Regions from separate parts of the Homo sapiens genome. Here region 1 is linked to region 2. The links come from fine-mapping of genetic effects on gene expression. Tissue or cell type: whole blood. Region 2 holds a variant in brackets; the other region holds the start of a gene. All regions are shown on one strand. Distances are between the middles of the regions.

Region 1 (11,199 bases), 120 kb after region 2:
TTTCTGGTATATAAATTCTTTTCATATTCCCTTACCTCGTGCTGTTTATGAAATTTATTCTCAAAATAGCTAGTAAAATATTATGTTGATTTTGACTGCTTGATAGGTATTGGAACATGGGTGTTTCCTACCTAAAAACAAACATTCACACTTTCAGGCAGAACTCATTAGGCAATTAGTCCTTTATTTGTAAAGCCATATTTATTTGGTTCATAATTTTACATTTTTCCCTTGATCCACAGAGACAATTCTATTTCCCTCTTATTTTAATCTGCTTCTCTTTCTTACAATTTATCTGTTGAACTTTGCTGTAGTTGCCCCCAGGGTCTGGATTCTGGTGATTGCATATTTATGGTGCAGTTCAACATGTTCTTCCATCTTCTGTCCTCTGTCATTTCTACTCATTGGCAGCTGGGTCCAGAGAATGAATCAGACTTAAGTTTGGTCTTTTTAAAAACCTATAAGTAGGGTATAGCAAGGCTATAAAAAGCACATAATTTTGCCATGTCTTTATATGATCTTAACAACCACTGAATCACAATACCTAAGTTTAATCATTTGTTAGGGGTTAAAATGGTGAGATTCTAATGCAATTATTTTATTTTTATGTGTTTGTTAGAGTATTTTTATTAAAAAATTTATCTCATGCAGTATTTTGTTATCCATGATAGAGTTAATAAAAAATGCAGGCTACCTGCTTAATTTTTTCCCTTTCTTAAACAATTTTAATAACAATGGATTAGTTTCTATTGATAATCTGAAAGTAGGCAATTCTTTTTTAATAGCATTATGCACTCATAGATATAAGTACGTTTGATCTGTTCAATCCATTGCACTTATTAAAATTATTGAAGTTCAAATGGTGTCATCTTGGTTAGTAGAAAACCCACCAAATTCTTGAAGAATTTTAAATTGATCAGTCTTTGCCAGCTTATTTGCTAACTGATATGACAATATTTGCTAGGCTTAGCTTTGCTATGTCCTGTCTGAGACCTGGAATCAGTGATATCTTTAGCAAACCTAGTTTTCTTGGAGTGAGAAGTGACATTTCAAGACCACAATCTAGGTCTCATTGCTACTGCATTAGTCATTGTTTCTAAGTATTTATAGTGGAAAAGACTAGAAAACATTTACAGGCAGGAATTATATATATCCCAGATCTGTCCACTATAAAAGACTAGAAACAATGACCAACACAGTAGCAATTTTCTGTTTACATTGATGCTTGCTATCAAATTTCCAAGACTAAAGTGCTTTTAACTAAACTATTCTCTATTGCATTTGCATGTCCCTTTTTCTATATTAAGAATTCTTTTTTCTCAAGGACACAGAATATGATAAATTAGAACTGCCACTAATTATTCATTTTTAAATTATTTTTAGATTACTAGTACTATTACCATTGTGATTACTAATATTAAATAAATTAAACCAAAGAAACTTTCTTGAAATCCACCTCATTCAAAAAAGCACAGGAAAATTAATTTCACATGAAAAATAATAGAAATGTACAAAGGTCAAATTCTATGCAATGTTATAATAAGAGAATAAGGAACATAACTATATGAATGCACACATACACAAAATATAAATCTGAAACCTAGCCTCATTTTAGTTGGCCTTACTTTCTCCTAATGCTAAGGAAAAGAAGACAAGGATTCCAATTATTAATTTACTGTACTCAAGTTGTAAACCAATGATATTAGGCTAGAAAATAAAGATATGATAACTGAAAAAGAGTTGTTAAAATTAATAATATTTATATGAATCTATCTTTTGAGAAATATAGGAAAATTAATTTTAAAACTATGATAAATTTGTTGAACAATAACAGTATTAATGGAATTCAGGTAACAGGGTATAATATTCATTTACAAAAATTGTATATGCATATTATATATATATGTTTAAAGATGACCATGATTATTATGATCAACTGATACATCACTTCCTGCCATAAACAGCTTGAAAACTGTAAAAATACAAAATACACTGGTTTTTACCACTGAAAATAAGCATAGAGAGGCATAGAGAACTGTGATCCATAACAGAAGAGAGACAGAGAAAGTAAGCCCTGCCTTCCTTTAAAAAGACTGCAGTGCAGAGAAGGAACATAAATCTCAAATTTAGAATTTAGAAATTGAGAAGTTTATAGGGGTACTCCTTAAATAGAGCGAAAACACTAATTTGAGTTGAGGAAATAGTGATCTAAATTCAAGGAGATTGAGAAGACTGAAATTTACAAGACAAAGTACTAGAAAAAGTCTAAAAATACTATATAAGAGTACTTTTGAGTCTAGCTGAATACCAAGCAGCTCAGATGAAAAACAAAACTGCATGAGTACTGACAAAGGATTCCCACCAGGGATGTGGGTTAATTTACAGAGATTATACCGGGTTCAGGTACTTTTAAGCTCTTATCATCTAAAGCAGAAAAGCCTTATCGAACACCCTGGGAATGCATTAGAGATTTAAGAATCATTATACCTTAGTAATTAAAACTACCCTAGATCCAGTATAACAAATTTAAACACAGGTCTTTAAGACGGAGGTGATACACAATTGATTGTTGGCTAAGACCAACTTCATCATCATTAAATGGAGAATGAAAGAATCCTGAATATTTACATCATAAAATTCAAAATGCCCAACATCCAATAAAAAGTTACTAGAGATCTGAAGAAGCAGGAAAATACGCCATCATTAGCAGAAAAATCAGTCAATAATAGCAGACCCAGAATTACAGAGATGCATTTTCAGAACAGGCTTCAAAACAGCTATTATAAATATTTTTAAGTATTTGAATATAAAACCAACAAGAATATAATAAGGAAGGAAATGCAAACTATAAAAATGGAACTTATGTAGCTGAAATGAATATTTTACTATACAAGTTTAACAGCAGACTAGCTATTGGAGAAGAAGAGGTTAATGAACTTGAAGACACAGCAATTGAAGCAGTCTAACCTGAGAAAGGGACAGAAAAGAGGCCAAAAAAATGGAATAGTTCCTTAATGACCAGTGGAACCGTGTTAAGGAGTCAAACATACTGTAATTGGAATATCTGAAGATAGGAGAAAGAGAAACAAAAAAATGGAGAACTAGTGCCTAAAAGTTTTCAACTTTGATAAAAACTAAAGCCCACAAGACCAGGAAGCTCAACAAATTTCAAGTAGAACAAACACCATTTATATCTTAATCAAAGTTTTAAAACTAGTTATAAAAACGTTTGAAAAGTAGTCACAGGAGAAGAAAGACATATTAGAACATAGAAAACTGGCACTGATTTCTCAACAGAAATAATGGAGTTCAGAAGACAAAAGTGTAAAATCTTTTAAAGTCCTAAAGAAAAGAAAAATCATCCTATAATTCTTTCTGGTGAAAATATTCTCCAACGGAAGATGGGGAAAAAGACACTTTTTTCATATGTTATATATTTGAAAATTGTTCATAAAATCATATATTTTGTTTTCTCACCATAAAACAATAAGCACGTGAGATAATACATATGTTAAATTGCTTGATTTAGCCGTTTCATAATATAAACAAAAAAAAATTTTTCTCAGAAAATCAGTACTTGAATATATTTATTGTTAGCAGATATGCACTACAGAAAATATTGAAGACAGGTCTTTATGCTAATGGAAAAGGATTCCAGGCCTGCACAAAGGAGTGAAGAGAGCTAGAAAAGGGAAACACGTGGGTATATATATATACACACACACACACACATATATATATAAATCCTTATCATTAAAAGTATACATATTTAAATAATAACTGACCATGCCCAAAAGAATGATATTTAACTGATGTCACCTTCAGAATCCACCTTTTTCTTCCTCTCTGGTTCCAGCTCCTAACTGACCACATACGCAGAGTAGAGCCAAACCTCTCTTTTCCAATTCTGTTTCAGAACTTTACACAGACCTGTGGAGTAGTTCACTTATGCCCATATTTTCTTTTCTTTTTCTTTTTATTTTTTTGTGAGGGGGATGGAGTCTTACTCTGTCGCCCAGGCTGGAGTGCAGTGGCATGATCTCGGCTCACTGCAACCTCTGACTCCCGGGTTGAAGCAATTCTCTGCCTCAGCCTCCCCAGTAGCTGGGATTACAGGCACCTGCCTCCACGCCTGGATAATTTTTGTATTTTTAGTAGAGATGGGGTTTCACCATCTTGGCCAGGCTGGTCTTGAACTTCTGACCTCATGATCCACCTGCCTCAGCCTCCCAAAGTGCTGGGATTACAGGTATGAGCCACCGTGCCCGGCAACTTGTGCCCGTATTTTCACAATTTCTTTTTCCACGGTTCTATCAGCATTGTGTATAGCACACTTCACACATAAATTTAACATATCTTATGAAAAATAATATATTGATTTTATGTCTTTAACTTCTCTGAGTTAACAGTTAAGTTATAGTCCTAGTGACTGGATGATGTCCATGCTCCTATGATTTTCTCTTGTGCTCATTCACCTTCATAGGATTAAACTGATATAAACACAGTGGATACTAATCATTACTAGGGGACAGCAGGGTGGAAGCATAATCTGCATTATCAGTATCCATTTCCAGCAGAAGCTCAATGCAAAATGCCATCATACATAATATTTTTCAATTCTCAGCCAAGGTGAGAGATTTAAAATATGTTCAAAGTACAAGTCATGGAATCAGGGGGTATATGTATAAATATATACTAGAAAGTCTTTAATTTCATATAGATAAATGTTTTGAGCTTTTAGCTGGTATCCCTGATAAATTGTCTTGGTAAAAAAATAATTCAAAAAGACTGAAAATAAAATTTTCTTTTAGGTTTGTATAACTCAGCTTTCAATATATACCATTTTAGATTAAAGCATTCACTACTGGAGATCAAAGATTCTTGGAAGGACTAAAGCACATAGTAGGTGATCAAAGGCTCTGATAATTCCAGATTTTCCACTGGCCTGTCTCTGAAACTTTGTAGGATTAAATTACCTAATGCCTGTGAACTTTGGTTTATTTTTCAATAAAATTTGAATTATGGACTAGAACTGCATTTGTAAGACTTTTGTATTCTATAAAACAGTGAAAGAAGTGGAGGCTAAACCAATTGGAGTTGTCAACATTTTTTTTAATAAAGGCATTAAAATATAAAAACTACCATCTCTACTTAATCCATGTCATTATAAAGAACATTTTTACATTATAAAGAACATTTTAACAACAAAAGAGTCAGGAGAGCAAATTCAAAATAGCAAGTCCTTTATATCAAAGGAATTAAAATAAAGCTTTAAGAAAAAAAACTTTTCATATTTTTTTCCATTTCATCACAGACTGATAAAAATTTCAAAAATGTCTAAAATCATTCTATAGATATGTGCTTAAAACTTTATTTATTTATTTGAGACAGAGTCTTGCTCCGTTGCCCAGGCTGAAGTGAAGTAGCCGGCATGATCTCAGCTCACTGCAACCTCCGACTCCCAGGTTCAAGGGATTCTCCTGGCTCTGCCTCCTGAGTAGCTGGGACTGTAGGTGCACACCACCGTGCCTGGGTAATTTTTTGTATTTTTAGTAGAGATGGGGTCTCACCATGTTGCCCAGGCTGGTCTTGAACTCCTGAGCTCAGGTAATCTGCCCACCTTAGCCTCCAGATTACAGGCATGAGTTACTGTGCCCAGCCCAAAACTGTTAAATTAAATGCTTTCTACAATCTTTTTTTAACCATAAAATTCTGATCTATTGTCTTATTTTGTTACAATATGTTAAGCCAATGTAATTAACATTACATAATCTTATGTCAGTTAAATGTGATTTACTTAACTCATGTAATAACAATAAGAAAAATACTTTTTTAAGAACTGGAGAAAATATCTCCTAATGTTTGATATAATACTTTGCCATAACACATTTTAACACACAGTCCACACATTTAAAAACTTTTTGAAAAGTTCCTGTGGGAAATGACAGTGTTATTTGAGTCTATTAAAGCATCATTCTGGTTGCGCAAACTTGAACGAGAAGTTGCACTGTGGTAAGACTAGTCTTTATCTTAGAGACCAAGAGTCATTTTGCAAATTTGTGGTATCATTTCCCTAAACAACTTAGGACCAAATTGTACTTCATTTCCTCAGTTCTGCATTTCTGCAGAGACAGAAAGAAACGCAGCTCTTGACTTCTTTTTTGTAAACATTACTGTAAGAGTTGTGATAACTTTTTATTCTACTATGTATATGTATGGAATAGTATTAATAAATGAACTAGGGAAGGATGTAATAAATTAGACATCTCTTCATTTTAGAGAGAAGATGGAAACAACATTGCTTTTCTTTTCTCAAATAAATATGTGTGAATCAAAAGAAAAAACTTTTTTCAAGTTAATACATGGTTCAGGAAAAGAAGAAACAAGCAAAGAAGCCAAAATCAGGTAAAATTGTACAATTTTAAGTCAGCCTTATACTTTTAAAAGCATAATTGAGGTTGAAGATTCATTACCTCTTGTTTTTGAACTATTGGGTGGAAAATATATTGTTTGTATTGCTATAATTTGGGAAAAAAAAACACCTTTTTATTTCTTAGGTTTAAACAACAAACTGAAATCTAAAGTGTTCTCATTAAAAAAAAAGTGTAATAATGTTAGCCACATAGAGGAACTAGTGCAATCTTTATTGAAATATAATCTCAAATACTTGATTGTCGGTGAGCAAAAGGAGAAACATTTTCGTATGTTACCCTAATTCCTCCACAAATACAATATTTAAATGGGATTCATGAGTGTGTGGGTATGGGTGGGCGTGGGTTTTTACCAACTACAAAATTTTCTGGTAGTCAGCAGGAGAGATTTTAACTGTCATCTAAATTGTCCTGACATGAAGGCCTTTTTATTACAGAGCTAAGGAAAAAAGAAATAGACTAAGTCTTCTTGTGCAGAAACCTGAGTTTCATGAAGACACCCGCTCCAGTAGATCTGGGCACTTGGCCAAAGAAACAAGGTGAATAAATTTTCAGTATTTTGAGGAAGATTTTGCTGATTCTATCATTAAAGATTTAAGAAAAATGCAGTTAGGGATTTCTGATTTATTGAAAATTACACAGCAATATAAGGAAAGTTAGAAATTTCATTTGAAGAGACTAGAAATATTTCATAAAATTAAATCACTTGAATTAAATCGCTTGAATTGAATAATCACGTGAACACTTAAAGCTGCTCTTTTAAAATTATATACCTGTCAGTTTTAAATGACATGTTTTACTCCTTATAACCTGATAAAATGCTCATTAATTTAAGAGTTTTCACAATGCAATATTGTCATAGCAGAGAGATATTCATCTCTTTCTTCAGTAGTTTGAAAAAACACACGCATTATAGCAAGTAAAGCACAAATAATGTCTTTTAATACTTAGCATTTATTTAATTCAAAAAGAAAATGCAAAAACCTTATATACTAGTTTCATACAAATTCTTCCAAATTAGAGTATAATAAAAAAGATCCGAGAAAATATATTCAATTCTCCACATTACCAACATCTCTAGAATATTTTTTCTATTAAAATATCTTATATTTCTTATCCCTTTGAAACTTTATTAGTCAAACTTCCTGTATCCGTTTAAAAAAAAAATTTGCAGCCTAGTGTGGTTACAGCTTCAAGGAAATTGCAGTATAATTTTTTTTTAACTGAAAGATACTGTGAGTTTAGTTTTTTTCTACTTGCTGAATTTAAACAGATAGTTGACCTGATTTCTTTATATTTGTTATCTGTGCCCTTTAACCTAAAAAAGGATTAATTTTTAATTAAAAAATAAAACTCACATATCCATGAGAAAAAAAATAATGTTATTTCAACACATTATTCAACAGACAAATTCCAAAAGAAAATTGAACAATGTTTTCAAAGTTTCTAATGTAAATGCAATTTTCATTATATTATAATCAAAGGAGAAACTGTGAAATATAATTGAAAAGAGCAGTAAAATAGCATATGTTAGAACAGATTCATAAACAGACTTTCTGCACACTCCATTATAAAACATTTTGTTTCTTGTACAGAGTCTCCCCTGAAGAGGCAGTGAAATGGGGTGAATCATTTGACAAACTGCTTTCCCATAGAGGTTAGTGGTACTTTCACCAAATACTTTGTGTGCTTAATGGAAAATTACACAAACTATGCATGTAATTATCCGAAACAATAGGTCACAAAATTTTTGTCTGATTGTTAATTTTCAGTAATTCAATTTTCTGATCAACAGAACTAAGTAATAGAAAAGTCAAATAATGGAAATTTTTTTAAAAGTTCTCATTTTGTTTAGAATTACCTACTGTGGATGAAATATTAGTTATTTATACTGTAGCTAGTTTCAGTTTTTAAATTTTTCCGATTTTTGAATGAAATCTTCGGTTTTATCAAATTCATGATTAACGAACTATTCATGTTAGTTTCATTGTTCAAGGATTAAAAATATCAAGTAATTCTTTCGATGGACATACAGGAAACCCACATAAACACAGTTTTTTTTGTTTGTTTGTTTTTGTTTTTTGTTTTGAGACGGAGTCTCGCTTTGTCGCCCAGGCTGGAGTGCAGTGGCGCCATCTCGGCTCACTGCAAGCTCCGCCTCCGTTCAGGCCATTCTCCTGCCTCAGCCTCCCGAGTAGCTGGGACTACAGGCTCCCGCCACCACGCCCGGCTAATTTTTTTGTATTTTTAGTAGAGACAGGGTTTCACCGTGTTAGCCAGGATGGTCTCAATCTGCTGACCTGGTGATCCACCCGTCTCAGCCTCCCAAAGTGCTGGGATTACAGGCGTGAACCACTGCGCCCCGCTCCATAAACACAGTTTTAAAAAAAATTTATAAATTCTTCATTCTGTACTTCATATCAATTGTCTATTTTTAAAGCAGAATTTTGTAGAAATGTTGAGAATCGAGTATGTATTTAAGGTGGAGCTTTGTCTGTGAGATGGAGGGTGAGGACAAGCATCAAGGCCTCATTTGACTCTGGAACACTGTTATAATATAGCATGGCTTAGGAGGCAGGCTCCCTGGATTGCCACTCTTTAGGGTCAATTTACATAAGGTAGCAAGTGAGTGAACTTTGTTGTCTGTATTCATTTTATGCTTTCTTTCAGATAGAAAGACTCAACTGAGCAGGTGATGCAGCTAGGTAATCACAGATTTATTATTCTCCACCCTGAACTTGTCAGAGTCTGCAAAAAAAGCAATGCTTTATCATTACCAAACATCCACCTCAAGCCCACAGCTTTTTTTTTTTGCACTTTAAACTTGTCCAGTTTCTCACCTTAGTCTTTGAAATACAATCATTTCCCAGCTCTTCCCAGACCCTTCCAAGATGAGGTTAGCCAGACTACTCTAACTACTCCTTGTAGCGTTGCCCGTGTCTTTCACAATTTTAAGGTGTCTACTGGAAGAAAGGATTCCTGTTGCCAGGACAGTTGGGAGTGGAATATTTGTAATTCACCCTCAAATACTATGCTCCATTTAATGTAACAACAACTTTTCTTTTCTGACATATTTTTGTTTTGTTTTGTTCCCTTCCTTAATTGTCCAACTCTTTATAAGGTCTTGGTGACCTTTTCATGTTCTTCTGAATTTAGTGATATAAAAATTCTATATCTGTAGATGATACCTGAAAACTTTCCCTCTGCCAATGAAAGTAGATGGCTGCCTCTGAACTGTAATATTTATAGGTAGAGAAATCAAGGCTTAAACTTAGTTAAGGATGTAATCAATGAGAATGGAGAGTTATGGTAAGAAAGTTTGTGCTGACAAAGTTTAACTTGTATTCCTTATATTTCACTCTAAGACTAGCTACTATCACTTCCTGTTTTTGGGAAAAGTAACTTAAACAGCCTTCCTCAACTACTGTACTCACTTTTCTTCATTTCCAGTATACGACAATTCATTTTTTGCTGTTTTTTGTTTGTTTTCTTTTTTGTTTTTTTGGTTTGTTTGTTGTTTTGTTTTGTTTTGTTTTTGTGTTTTGAGACAGAGTCTTGCTCTGTAGCCTAGGCTGGAGTGCACTGGCACAATCTCAGCTCATTGCAACCTCCACCTCTTGGGTTCAAGGGATTCTCCTGCCTCAGCCTCTGGAGTAGCTGGGATTACAGACACAGGCCACCACACCTGGCTAATTTTTGTATTTTTAGCATATTGGTCTCGAACACCTGACCTCAAGTGATCCACCCATCTAGGCCTCCCAAAGTGACGGGATTACAGGCGTGAGTCATCATGCCCAGCCCCAGTATACAACAATTTCTAAACTATTGTTAAAATTCTTGCCAAATCTATGTCAAACTTGCCCCGTACTCACTTTCTTGCTCCGATTGTTTTGGTTCAGTTTCAGATATGCTCTTTATAGATTAATTACAATAACTTGTGTAAAACTTGCTTCCATAATTCATGTCCCCCAAATGTGTTTATTTTAAAATCTCCTCTTATATTCAACATTTTGGTACTGCACTGCCCTTTAGACTCCTCACCAGTCAGAGAAGGAGAAAAGAAAACAAAACAACAACAACAAAAAAAGAGGACTGGGATTAATTTCTTTATAATATAAGTATTTATTAGAAGGAAACATACATCTTTTCATCTGTGGATTCCTAAACTTAGCACATCCCCTGGAAAAGAATATAACTGAATTTGTTTCTAGAAGTTAGTCCAGAGTTCCAGTGAAATTCGAGTTTTAGTTTTCTCCTAAAACATAAATGGTTGTATAATCTTAGTTAAGCTTCCTAATCACTCTGACTTTCAGCTTCCTCGACTGTAAATGAAGATAATGTTTTTAGCTCCAACAGAAATAGATTTCTGTCAGGATTAAATGAGATGATGAATAAGAAACCAATAAATCTTGGACACTACAGAAATGTCAATGATTGCTGCTATTATAAAAAATAATATTTACTAACCAGCTTAATAATCTTTTTTTCTGTTTCCAGTCTAGTTACAACTGGATGATGATCAATTAGAGGGTGAAAATTTCAATTGACAATAACATATAGACAGGATTTCTTTCACTTAATGAATTAGTATATAATAATTTCATCATACTTTCATTACTCATTCAAAGCATAGAAAGATTTAGCAGGATGATTAGTCCTACAGAAAATCCTCACCTAGCATTCTGTAATCTTTCTTCTTTAAAAGTGGTAAAAAGCAAAAGGACAAAATCGAATTTGCTACTCTCTCTTTTCTCTACTGGTAATATTG
Region 2 (11,044 bases):
CTTATTATATGATCTAGCGATTGCACTCATTGGTATTTATCCAAATGAGTTGTAAACTTGTGTATACATAAAATACATTTGTGAATATAGCAGCTCTATTCACAGTTGCCAAAACTTAGAGGCAGCCATAAGGCTTTACAGCAGGTGCTTGGATAAACTGCGTAGACTCATATGATGGAATATTACTCAATAATAAAGAAACAAACTATTCAGCAACAAAAAGACACAGGAATCTTAAATACAGATTGATAAATAAAAGAAATCAGTCTGAAAAAGCAACTTGCTATATAATTCCAATTATATATCATTCTGAACAAGGCGTAACTATGAATCAGTAGTTGAGAGCAATGAATAGGTGGAGCACAGGAGATTTTTAGGTCAGTGAAACTATAATGTCTGAATGATACTATAATGGTGAATACATTTATCAAAACTCATAAAATATACAATACAAAGAGTAAGCCCTAATATAAACTTTGGACTTAATAATTATGTATCAACATTGACTCATCAAAGGTACCACAGTAATGCAAGATATTAATAGGAAAATCTATGGGGATGGGGTAGGGTGAAGGTCATACAGGAACTGTACTTTCCACTTCCTTTCCTTATAATTCTGTAGTGCTCTAAATAATAAAGTCTATTAATGTTTTAGATAGCTACTGAAATCATATACTCACTTGGTTAAATATATCCGGGTATGTTGTCAGACTTAGAATAAGTTATTGCCAGAATTCGAAAGAGACTGAATAACTCATCTCCTGGCTGTCTTTCTTCTGTCATTTTCTACCTCTTCTTGAACAGCACTGGTCTTGCATTTCTCATACAAATGAAGCATTATTCTCTTTGTGGCCTTTGCTTCTGCTACCCCTTCTACCTGGAATACTCTGGGCTTTTTATTTGCATGGCTTTCTTCTTTACATCATTTATGCTGCTGCCAGATGTCATCTCATGAGAGAGAATTTATTTGATTTAAAAGAGCATCCAGTATCACTCTATGCTCTATCTGCTTCGTGCCTCTTTTTTAATACTTATATGTATATTATATTTCATATTGATGTGTAATTATTATCTGTTTTCATGAGTATTTAAGTTTCATGAAAGAAAGGACTTTGTTTTGTACAATGCTGTATCCCAACTTCATAGAGTAATTACTGTCATTTAGTAGGTTTTCCCTAAATAGTTGTAGAATGAGCAATTGAGGGACTTACAGGTAGCCATTTTTAAATATTTTGAAGACGTCTATAGATATACAAAAGTTAAAAGTAAACAATTCCTATTTACCTATGACCAGATTTAAAGAATTGTCAATATTTTGAAGAGACTCATTAAATATAGTACATATTTTTTAATGGCAGTTCATTTTATCAGGATCTTTTAATATGAGTAAATGGTCTGTACAATTGACAAAAATGTCATTTTTTTGCACACAGTGCCTTATTAAAACAAATTTATACAATCAAAATAACTTGAGTCATTATAAAACACTATATGTGAGTATATTAAACAATTATTACATACCTCCATGTTAACAACAAATAATACAGCAGATTAAACACCCAGTTCAGAAATATTGCTCCTGACTTTCTGCTCTTCGTTTTATACATTTATTTATTCTCCACCTCAGGGAAGTACTTTTATCCTTAACCTTTTCAATTTCTCATATCTCTGTGGCTTCCTCTTCAAAGGCCTCCTGGAACCTGCATCATTGGGACTATTTCTGCCTAAACAGTGTGACTTTTTGTACCCAGCCTTTTCAGTTTATCTTATCAACTAAGCATATGCCTCACTGAAAAACTTTCATAATTGGTCTAGAGATTCTATCAATTTTCTATACTCATACCATTTCATGTTTTAAAGAATTCACTCAGCTTTAAAATGCATGGCACAGAAAGAATACATAAACTAGTATTTTCCACCTATGTGGTTATGAAAATGTTTCAAGAATTAACTTGCCTACAACAGTGCCTTGTATTTGTTTACAAAGTTATGTTTAATGACTATATATTTTTGTCAGACATTCCATCGTTACAAAGCTAAGACTGAGAGTTATCGCTTATAATCATTCACTTTAGCCAGCAAATGTATATTGAATTTCTATTTTGTGTTAGGCATTGTTCTGACACAATAGATAGATAATGGTAACACATCAGACAAACAATGGTGAATGGGAAAAAATGAAGTTCTAGCCTCATATCACCTTACATTTCAGTGTACTACTACTAAGCAATTTGATCAGCTAAAAAAAATTAGCCTCATCAGCCTGCCCTCTTACCTAACAGATTAGCCACATACTTCTTACGATATTTTGTTTTGCCATTTAAATGAGAAGGAAGGAAGAGCAAGATAAGAGAAACTTGATCACTTCTCTTCAAATGTCAAAGTAGCTGTGATGTATTGCACACAGTGAAGGAATAGAATTAGAAAATCCACCCCAGACCATTCTCTTCAGTCTAAGCGAAACCAATTAGACTGGAATTCAGGACCTTAGGTTTGAGTTTAAAAAAAAAAAATAAATGCCATAAAGGTTCTAGCCATTGCAATAAAGCAAGAAAAAACAAATACACAGAGCAGAAAGGGAAAAAAAAAAATTTTAAGTGTTTGCATATGACAAGACAGTGTTAATAAAGAAACCTAAAGAATACATATAAAATTAGTAGAACCAATATTTAAATTTAAAGAGGTCATAAATTATAAAGTATACAAAATGTTCATGTTTCTATAGTTTATTAATAAAACATTAAAAATTAATTTTTTAATTCCCAAAACATAGCCAAATCATAAAGAGACTTAATCAACCATGTGAAAGACATAAAAATAAAACTATAAAACATTGTCAAGAGAAATATTTTTAAATCCTTAAATAAATGGAGAGATACATCATGTTCATGAATTAGAAGAATAAATATTGTTAACTCTCCCAAAGCTAACATATAGATCCAATGCAATGTGAAGCATAATTTCAAGAGTGTATTTGAGGAAGAGAGAATTAGAAATTGGCAATCTTGCTTTAAAATTTTTATGAAAACACAAAGTTCATAGACTAGCTAAACAATTCTTAAAAGAACAAATTTGGAAACCGTTTACCACTTGATTTCTACTCATCACAAAAGAATAGTAATAAAGACAATGGTATTGGTGTAAAGATACATGCATCAATAAAATAAGATAGGACATCTAGAAATGCTCTATGTATATAGTCAGTTGTTTTTGGCAAAGATGCCAAGGCAATTCAATGGTAAAGAATGGTCTTTTCAATAAATGTTGCTGGAACAACTAAATATCTATATGGAAAAATTAAAACCTCACTCTTAGATAATGATTTCTTAGATATGACACATGGAGCATGAATCATTATATAAAATATGATTGATTGATTGAACTTCATCAAAATAAGAAACCTGTGGTCTTTAAAAGACGCTGTTAGAAAATTAAAATACAAGCCATATAATAGTCACAGACACATTCACCCTAATATATCTGTCAACAGAAGTGTGTCTTAATATATACTTTTCACAAATCAACCGGGAAAATATTTGAACAGATTTTTCAAATATTACAGAAACAAAATATGAATGGCCAGTAAGTGCATTAAAATAACCTCAAGAATGTTATTTGTAAAAGAAATGTAAATTAAAATCATGACATGATATCACTAGACACTCATCACATTATCTAAAATTTTTTTAAAAGATAAGCCTTATGAGTTGTTGATGAGAATGTATTCCAACTGGAATACTCATACTTTGCTGGTGGGAATGCAAAATAGTGCAACTACTTTGTGAATGTGTATAGGTTTCTTATATATTTAACAAACAGATTATTACCATATGATCTCTAGGTATTTACACAAGGAACGTAAAAATATATACCCACATAAAGACTTTACAAAAATGTTCATGGCAGCTTTATTTATAATAAATTAAAACTACAAGCCAGGTGTGGTGGCACACACCTGTAGTACCAGCTATTAGGGAGGCTGAGGCAGGAGCATTGCTTGAGCCCAGGAGTTCCAGGCTGCAGTGAGCCGTGATCTATGATTGTACCACTGCTCTCCTGCTGGGGTGACAGACGGAAACTCTACCTCTAAATAAAAATAAAAATAAATGAGAAGAAAACAAATTCTCTCTCAATAGGAGAATGGACAAGGAAATTCTGCTGTGCTACTACTCAGCAATAAAAATAACAAACTACTGATCCATATGACAACTGGGATGAATCACAAAAGCTTGTTCTGAGCAAAGGTGCCAGTCTTAAAAGAATGCATAGTGTATGCACATGTAAACTCATAGGCACTCTAGACACTATAGGTTAATAGACATTATAGGTTAATCTTAGTTTTACCATGTTAACATCTGAATTTATTTATATTTATAATTATGTATTTCCAATGAAAATTTCATATGTTCTTACAAGGTTAGTTTTCCCAAATAAGATTATGATTTTCAAATTATATTCTGATAAATAATCTAACAAGACCTATTTTTAACTCTAGTGTCAGTATTAAATTAAGCATTCTAATTAAGAATGACTACCTTTTTTCATCCTGCATACAACTATCATTTGGACAATGTGGCTCTTCTATGTCCATAGTTGTGCTGAATCAAGCCCTGACAATGAGCCCCTTCTTTAGCAAAATTCGGAAATGAAATTCTGATCTTAGTCTAGCTGGTTTAGGTAGCATTGTATTTCCTGGTTCCATTTTCTTTTTAATACCTAGAAACATATCTATCCCTGTCTTCTTTTTTTTTTTGTCAAATGTTCCCAATGGATTTCTGTTACTTGTCACTAAACAGTCTCAATCACTACAGGTAAAGTCAATGGTAGTAACCAGGCTAGTCAAGGAACAATATTCCAGAAATATTCAGGTGGTTGTGTTATGGCCTAAATGAATAAAAATCAGTATACCCAGCACAAAGGCCAAATTCATGTATATAGAGTGATATTGGCAATATAAGAAAATGTAATTTACATAGTTTTTGATATAACATGATTATTAAAATTCTTTTTTATAAGCTCATAAATTAGTACATTTTTAATCAGTATGAAATACATACATTTATCTCATTAATATTTTGGTTTATTCATTTACCTTTTTATATGCTTTAAGGTAAATTTGCCCTCATGACTTAATTGTTTCTGGGTATAATGAGAAACCATTGTGCATGAGTAAGTTTGGGAATTAATTCCTGACAATGTTTACAATAAACTTTGTGAGACCTTATGTTAGCCTTCTGATGTCATTCCTCTCCAAAAATATTTGTTTTATTCCAACTTGAACAGCAAGGTCTTAGTAAAATCCCTATGGATTGTGATACGTAGTTGGAGTGTATGTGTCTCTGCTCTTATTTGTTCTTTATATGCACTAATGTATAACATAAGCATTACTGTATAGTGTAAGGATTTATGGCAGAAATAAGTTGAGTTAGGTTCAAATTCCCACACTGGGAATATTAGCAAATGAGAAATATAAATCATCAAAGCAATTTTATAAAACTGTTAAGCTATTAATGTTAATCCCACCTTGTTCCCAAAATAAATTAAGACAGCTTAAAAACATGAAATAATATATAGAAAGATAGCATAAATTAAAAATAGGTGAGAAAGGAAAAAAGTGAGATTAAACATAGCCAAATACAACATATACAAATATGCATATTATGAAGCACTTTATACTGTTTATTAGAGGAATCTGCAATTTGGACTCTGATTTTCAGCTGTCAGCTAAAAAGGAAATCTTGATTTGATACACAATTCACAGTGGCTTTGCAATAAATCTCAAACCACATTTCCAAGGGCAGACACAATTATTTCCAAATTCCAACACTTTAAAGCAATTTATTAAATAAATGCTACAGAAAAAGAACACTGAGGCCGGGCGTGGTGGTTCATGCCTGTAATCCCAGCACTTTGGGAGGCCAAGGTGGGCAGATCACGAGGTCAAGGGATCAAGACCATCCTCGCCAACATGGTGAAACCGCGTCTCTACTAAAAATACAAAAATTAGCTGGGCATGATGCCACGCGCCTGTAGTCCCAGCTACTCAGGAGGCTGAGGCAGGAGAATCTCTTGAACCCGGGAGGCGGAGGTTGCAGTGAGCCGAGATTGTGCCACTGCCCTCCAGCCTGGCGCCTGGCAACAGAGCGAGATTCCGTCTCAAAAAAAAAAAAAAAGAAAAAAAAAGGAAAAGGAAAAAAGAAACACTTAATAGAGTGTCCATTAGGACATTATCCTTACACAGACCATCTTAATGTCCATTAGGAGGCTGTTTCTTAATGTTTTCCTCAATGTCTTTTCACCGAAGAACAATGCACTCCTAGCAAGTATATCCTAGGGGCCAAGGTGGAATACATGACCCTCATTCTGTGTTCTATATTGAAAGACATATTAAAGATGAAATATATAAAAATAAGTATAAAGATGATTTACTCAAAAGATATTAGGTAGTTCTGACACTGAAAATGTGGTCCCTGATCAGTAAGAACTCAGCATTCATGTATTCTACAATGTTCACACAAGCTTATGATGCTTCCTTAACTACGAATGTGGGGTACACACTACATTCTCCATGGAAACTTTATGGAGCAATCAACAGAGGAA[G/C]TTGTCTAAAGTAGGTATTTCAAAACAAGGAAAGGAACTTTGTTTTGAAAAAACAAAAAGCTTGATATAGCTAGGTTAGAGAGGACTTAAGAGGAGAATGATGAGAGAAAAGTCTGAAAAAATAAAGGATAGCTCTGTTGTTTTCAAACCATTATATTTGGGTATACCCTAAAATAATTTTCAAAAGCTGTGCACATCTCATACATTTTTATACTAACATTTAAACCTTTTGATCACACTTTAAAAAACAATAAAGCAAAAAATTTCCACTGTATATAAGTAATGATATTTGAAATAAAATGGTTGCATCACTCTTTTAAAAGTACCTAATGAAATTTAAATACCAGGGTGAATTATTCATGATAGTCTATTTTAAAAACACATGGATATGCTATTTTTTTTTTTTTTTGAGATGGACTCTTGCTCTGTCACCCAGGTTGCAGTGCAGTGGTGCAGTCTCAGTTCACTGCAACCTCCACTTCCTGGGTTCAAGTGATTCTCCTGCCTCAGCCTCCTGAGTAGCTGGGATTACAGGCACCTGACACCTTGCCCAGCTAATTTTTGTGTTTTTAGTACAGACAGGGTTTCACCATATTCGCCAGGCTGGTCCCGAACTCCTGACCTCAAGTGATCCGTCCACCTCAGCCTCTCAAAGTGTTGGGATTACCACCGCGCTTGGTGGGGTACGCTATTCTTATTGGAAATTATATATCATCCTTTTTTTAACCCCTTAAAATTACTTTTAATTTTACTCTTTTCACAGATTTTCTGTTTAATGTAATTTTTATGCTTCATGAATTTCAATTGATGATCTATCAAACTTTCCTGAAACAAAATTGGAATATGATAGAAATTATTTTAAAATTGTTTTTATGATTATAAGACTAAACATGAAAATCTTCTAGATGATGTATTCTAATTATCATGAAATTTATTAAAATGCTAAACATGATATTGAATTTTTAAAATAAGTAAAATTGTATTCGTTTTCATATGATGAAGGTGACATTTGTCCAGTTAATTTACATCCCCTAAATGAATAATTTTGAATGCTAGAATGAGATATAACAGTATTAGTTCTATGAATCCACCAACAGAGTTTCACATAGAGGCATTTTACATATTTTAGTGTCTTTCAAAATAATATGAGAGAATTAAGATTTTGTTAAATTTCAATATATCTTTATCAACACAATAAATGTTGACAAAATGCTTTATTATTATCATGTGCTTTAAATATATTTTTCTGAACAACTATGAGCTGCATATTCAGCTCTTTTACTTTATGTATAATGTCTAATATGAACAAAACCCTATTTTAAAATAAATTATCTAAATCAGATTTTTTTTTTAGAAAAAGCCTAACTTCATCATTTATTTCAAATATACAATATACTATATGTTTGGAGGAATATTATTTTAAAACCAAATATTATAAAAACTGAAGAGAAACAAATTGGAACACCTGTTTAATGATGTTTTACTAAAATCAATCAAGATTAAAATTATATAGCTATATTATTGTTAATTCATTTTAAGACCCCATCACAATATGTATTCAATGTGCTATTCCTTATTGTTTATTTGTAATAAAGGAATATAATATATAGTTAAAATCATAAATGATTTACATGGTGAGATTATGACAAAAGGCATAATATTTTGGTAAAGTTTGATTGGGAACATTGCTTTCTGTATATGACTTTTTAAGAAAATATAAATGTCAAGAATAAAATTCCTAATTAATTTTATTAACCTTCTTATGCATTATGCCTAAACTAATAAAGCAGAAATGTTTGAACTTCTAAAAGCAATCCATTCAACATCTAATGTATAATTTTACTTGTTGATAACTATAAGAAAGTATAAGAAAATTTTAATCATTTTATTAAATATAAAAAAAAATAATTGATTTGTGCTGGAATAAGTCTTCATGACATAGTTGATAAAATAGGCTCTTAGTTAAATTTATCAGTGAGGGTTCAGTAAATAAAACAGAGGTTCTAGGAGTATTATCAAAATGAGGAAATTACTATAGGAATTAAAAATTTTATGAATGTGGGGCGAACTTAGAAAGTGGAGGTCTAGAAGGGGAGAGTCAGAAGCTCAAAGAAATTGTCATTAATCAATCCTCTGTAAGAACTAATGCGCGTAAATAAAGTCCAGACTTGCTAGAAAATCTAAGAACCTGGGATGGTTTTCTGCCCAAGCTACCTCAGGAGTTGCCTCCATGTGGTAGCTGCCCAGGAGCTGCCAAGTCCAAGCTCCTTGTGGTGGCCCAGGCTGCTGTTGGTCAGCAGTGACAGCAATGAAGAGGCAGAGCAGAGGAGAGCAAGGACAAGTAGGGGTTCCAGGCATCTTTCCAGGCATCGTGTCTAACCTTAAAACAAACTGAAAAGAGATTTCTTGGAAATCTAGCTCTCTGCTTTTTCCCAGTTGACATCACACAATGCAACACAGTAACTGATTATGAAATGCACACTGAGCTGACAAAAAAATTCATATTTTTATCTGCAATTTTTCTCCATTGGAACATTAAAATTTTTGTGGTCCCTAAAACATTACAGTTATCTTCAAATATGTCAATTACACTAACATATACTTCTTCATCTATTAAAAAGTACTTTCCAGCTAATGACAGAACATAGAAGCATGAATATATACAAAATGAATTGCACACCTGTGAGTAGGTGGAAGAAAAGACCATTTATTTTCATTTAATATTTTGAACCAAACACTCCTTTTGCTTTCCCTCATCTATCTTCTCCATGAGGTCTCTGCCTCTTTTGAAAGCCAGTGGATGAAAGATGTGTGCTCCTTAAAACAAAATTCCCATCACTGTTGCTGCCCACATACTCTGTAAGGATCCAAACAAGTGCCAAAACAAGTTATTTCTGAAGTCATGCTTTGTGTGTAATAGCAATGTGTTTAAGACAAGAAGAGGCAGTAAGACCTCTGATGAGATAATTTTCCATTTTTAGATGTCCCAAAGTATTTTTCATGACTAAGAAATGTACTATAATAAGATTCTGGATGAGTAAATTGTACGTATCTTTTTCCCTCTATAAGGTAGAGAAAGAGAAAATATGAAAAGCTAGGTGGGAAAGGAAAATTTACATTGTTAGAAGAGAATACATTTGGAATTTGAAGATTATGAAATTTATTCCTTTAAAACTACTCATTTTCAAACCTTTATATTGAGGTACACAGTAAAATAATTTTGAAAAACTATGCATATCTCATATATTTCAGATTGACATCTAAAACTTTTAATTCGATTTAGAAAGGTATAAAATTTTTTATTGTACATAAATAGTGATATTTTGAAATAAAATAGTTACATCACTCTTTAAAAGTGCCCAGTGGAATCTAAATACGAGAGTGATTTATCCATGATTGTCTATTTTAAAATATATGGGCAAGCTATTATTATTGGAAGTTACACATCATTCTTTTTCTTAACTCCTTCAAGATACTTTTTAATTTTACATTTTTCGTGAATTTTCTGTTTGATGTAGCAGTTTTTGTGTTTCAAACACTTCATTTGATCTTCTATCACACTTTTCTGAAACGAAATATGTTACAATTGAAAACTGTATTGTGTAATGTGTTGAAGAATGGGGACCACAGCGTATAGGGTAGGAAGTCAAAGCAAGAGAAGACTGATAAATTTACAGAAAAAAAAAAAAAAACATTTAGGGGAAGAAAGTCTGAGAACAGTTGGAGAAAATGCAGGAGTGGTATTAAATCAGAGACCAAAAATAATTGGAAGTTATAATTTGAGAGGACAACACTTAAATTTAATATTTCATAGAGAAAACATCTTAGTTCATAGCAGTGTTCGACTGTGGAAATATATGGCTAAATCAGAGTGCAGAAGAATTGTACTGAGTAACGGTCACAAAATTAAGAGGTTCAAATGTAAGACTAATTAGTGCGTATATGTTCAATTATTTAAAATCATGGCAAGGCTTTAGATAGAAAGGGGAAAAATATGTGCTCTTACATTTGTACAGCCACCAAAGATGGCAGTCAGGTAAGGCATAGAGAGTTTAGATTGGAGTTTCCTCATAAAACTATTTCCATCACCCCATGGTAGATGCAAAATGGGTGCATTGGAAGAATCAACCAGAGCATGGAATAATAAGCTTCTGAGGGAAAGAGTACGTCTACAGGCAACAAAATACCCCATCCTCCTAGAGTTTGGAAAAGCATCAAACCATAGCAGGCTGAGTATTCCTTACAGGAAAATGTATAAAATATTGTTAATGTAAAAATCAGTCCTTTTTTTTTTTTTTTTTTTTTTTTTTTTTTTTGAGATGGAGTCTCGCTCTGTCGCCCAGGCTGGAGTGCAGTGGCGCGATCTCGGCTCACTGCAAGCTCCGCCTCCCGGGTTCACGCCATTCTCCTGCCTCAGCCTCCCGAGTAGCTGGGACTACAGGCG

What was found. PIP is the estimated chance that this variant, and not a neighbour inherited with it, causes the effect.
Region 1: RGS18 starts here. The variant in region 2 is fine-mapped to the expression of RGS18 in whole blood (TOPMed, PIP above 0.99).

What each region holds. Positions count from the first base shown.
Region 1 is chr1:192,152,352-192,163,550 of GRCh38, forward strand. It overlaps RGS18 (regulator of G protein signaling 18), which reads left to right and starts at 6,111. Exons shown (of 5, transcript NM_130782.3): 1 at 6,111-6,405; 2 at 6,869-6,970; 3 at 8,027-8,088. The coding sequence starts at 6,287. RefSeq lists a silencer at 868-1,162.
Region 2 is chr1:192,032,206-192,043,249 of GRCh38, forward strand. No RefSeq gene overlaps it. Among named protein-coding and RNA genes, the nearest start is that of RGS18, 120 kb to the right of the region's middle. The variant G/C (reference allele first, on the strand shown) is at 6,601.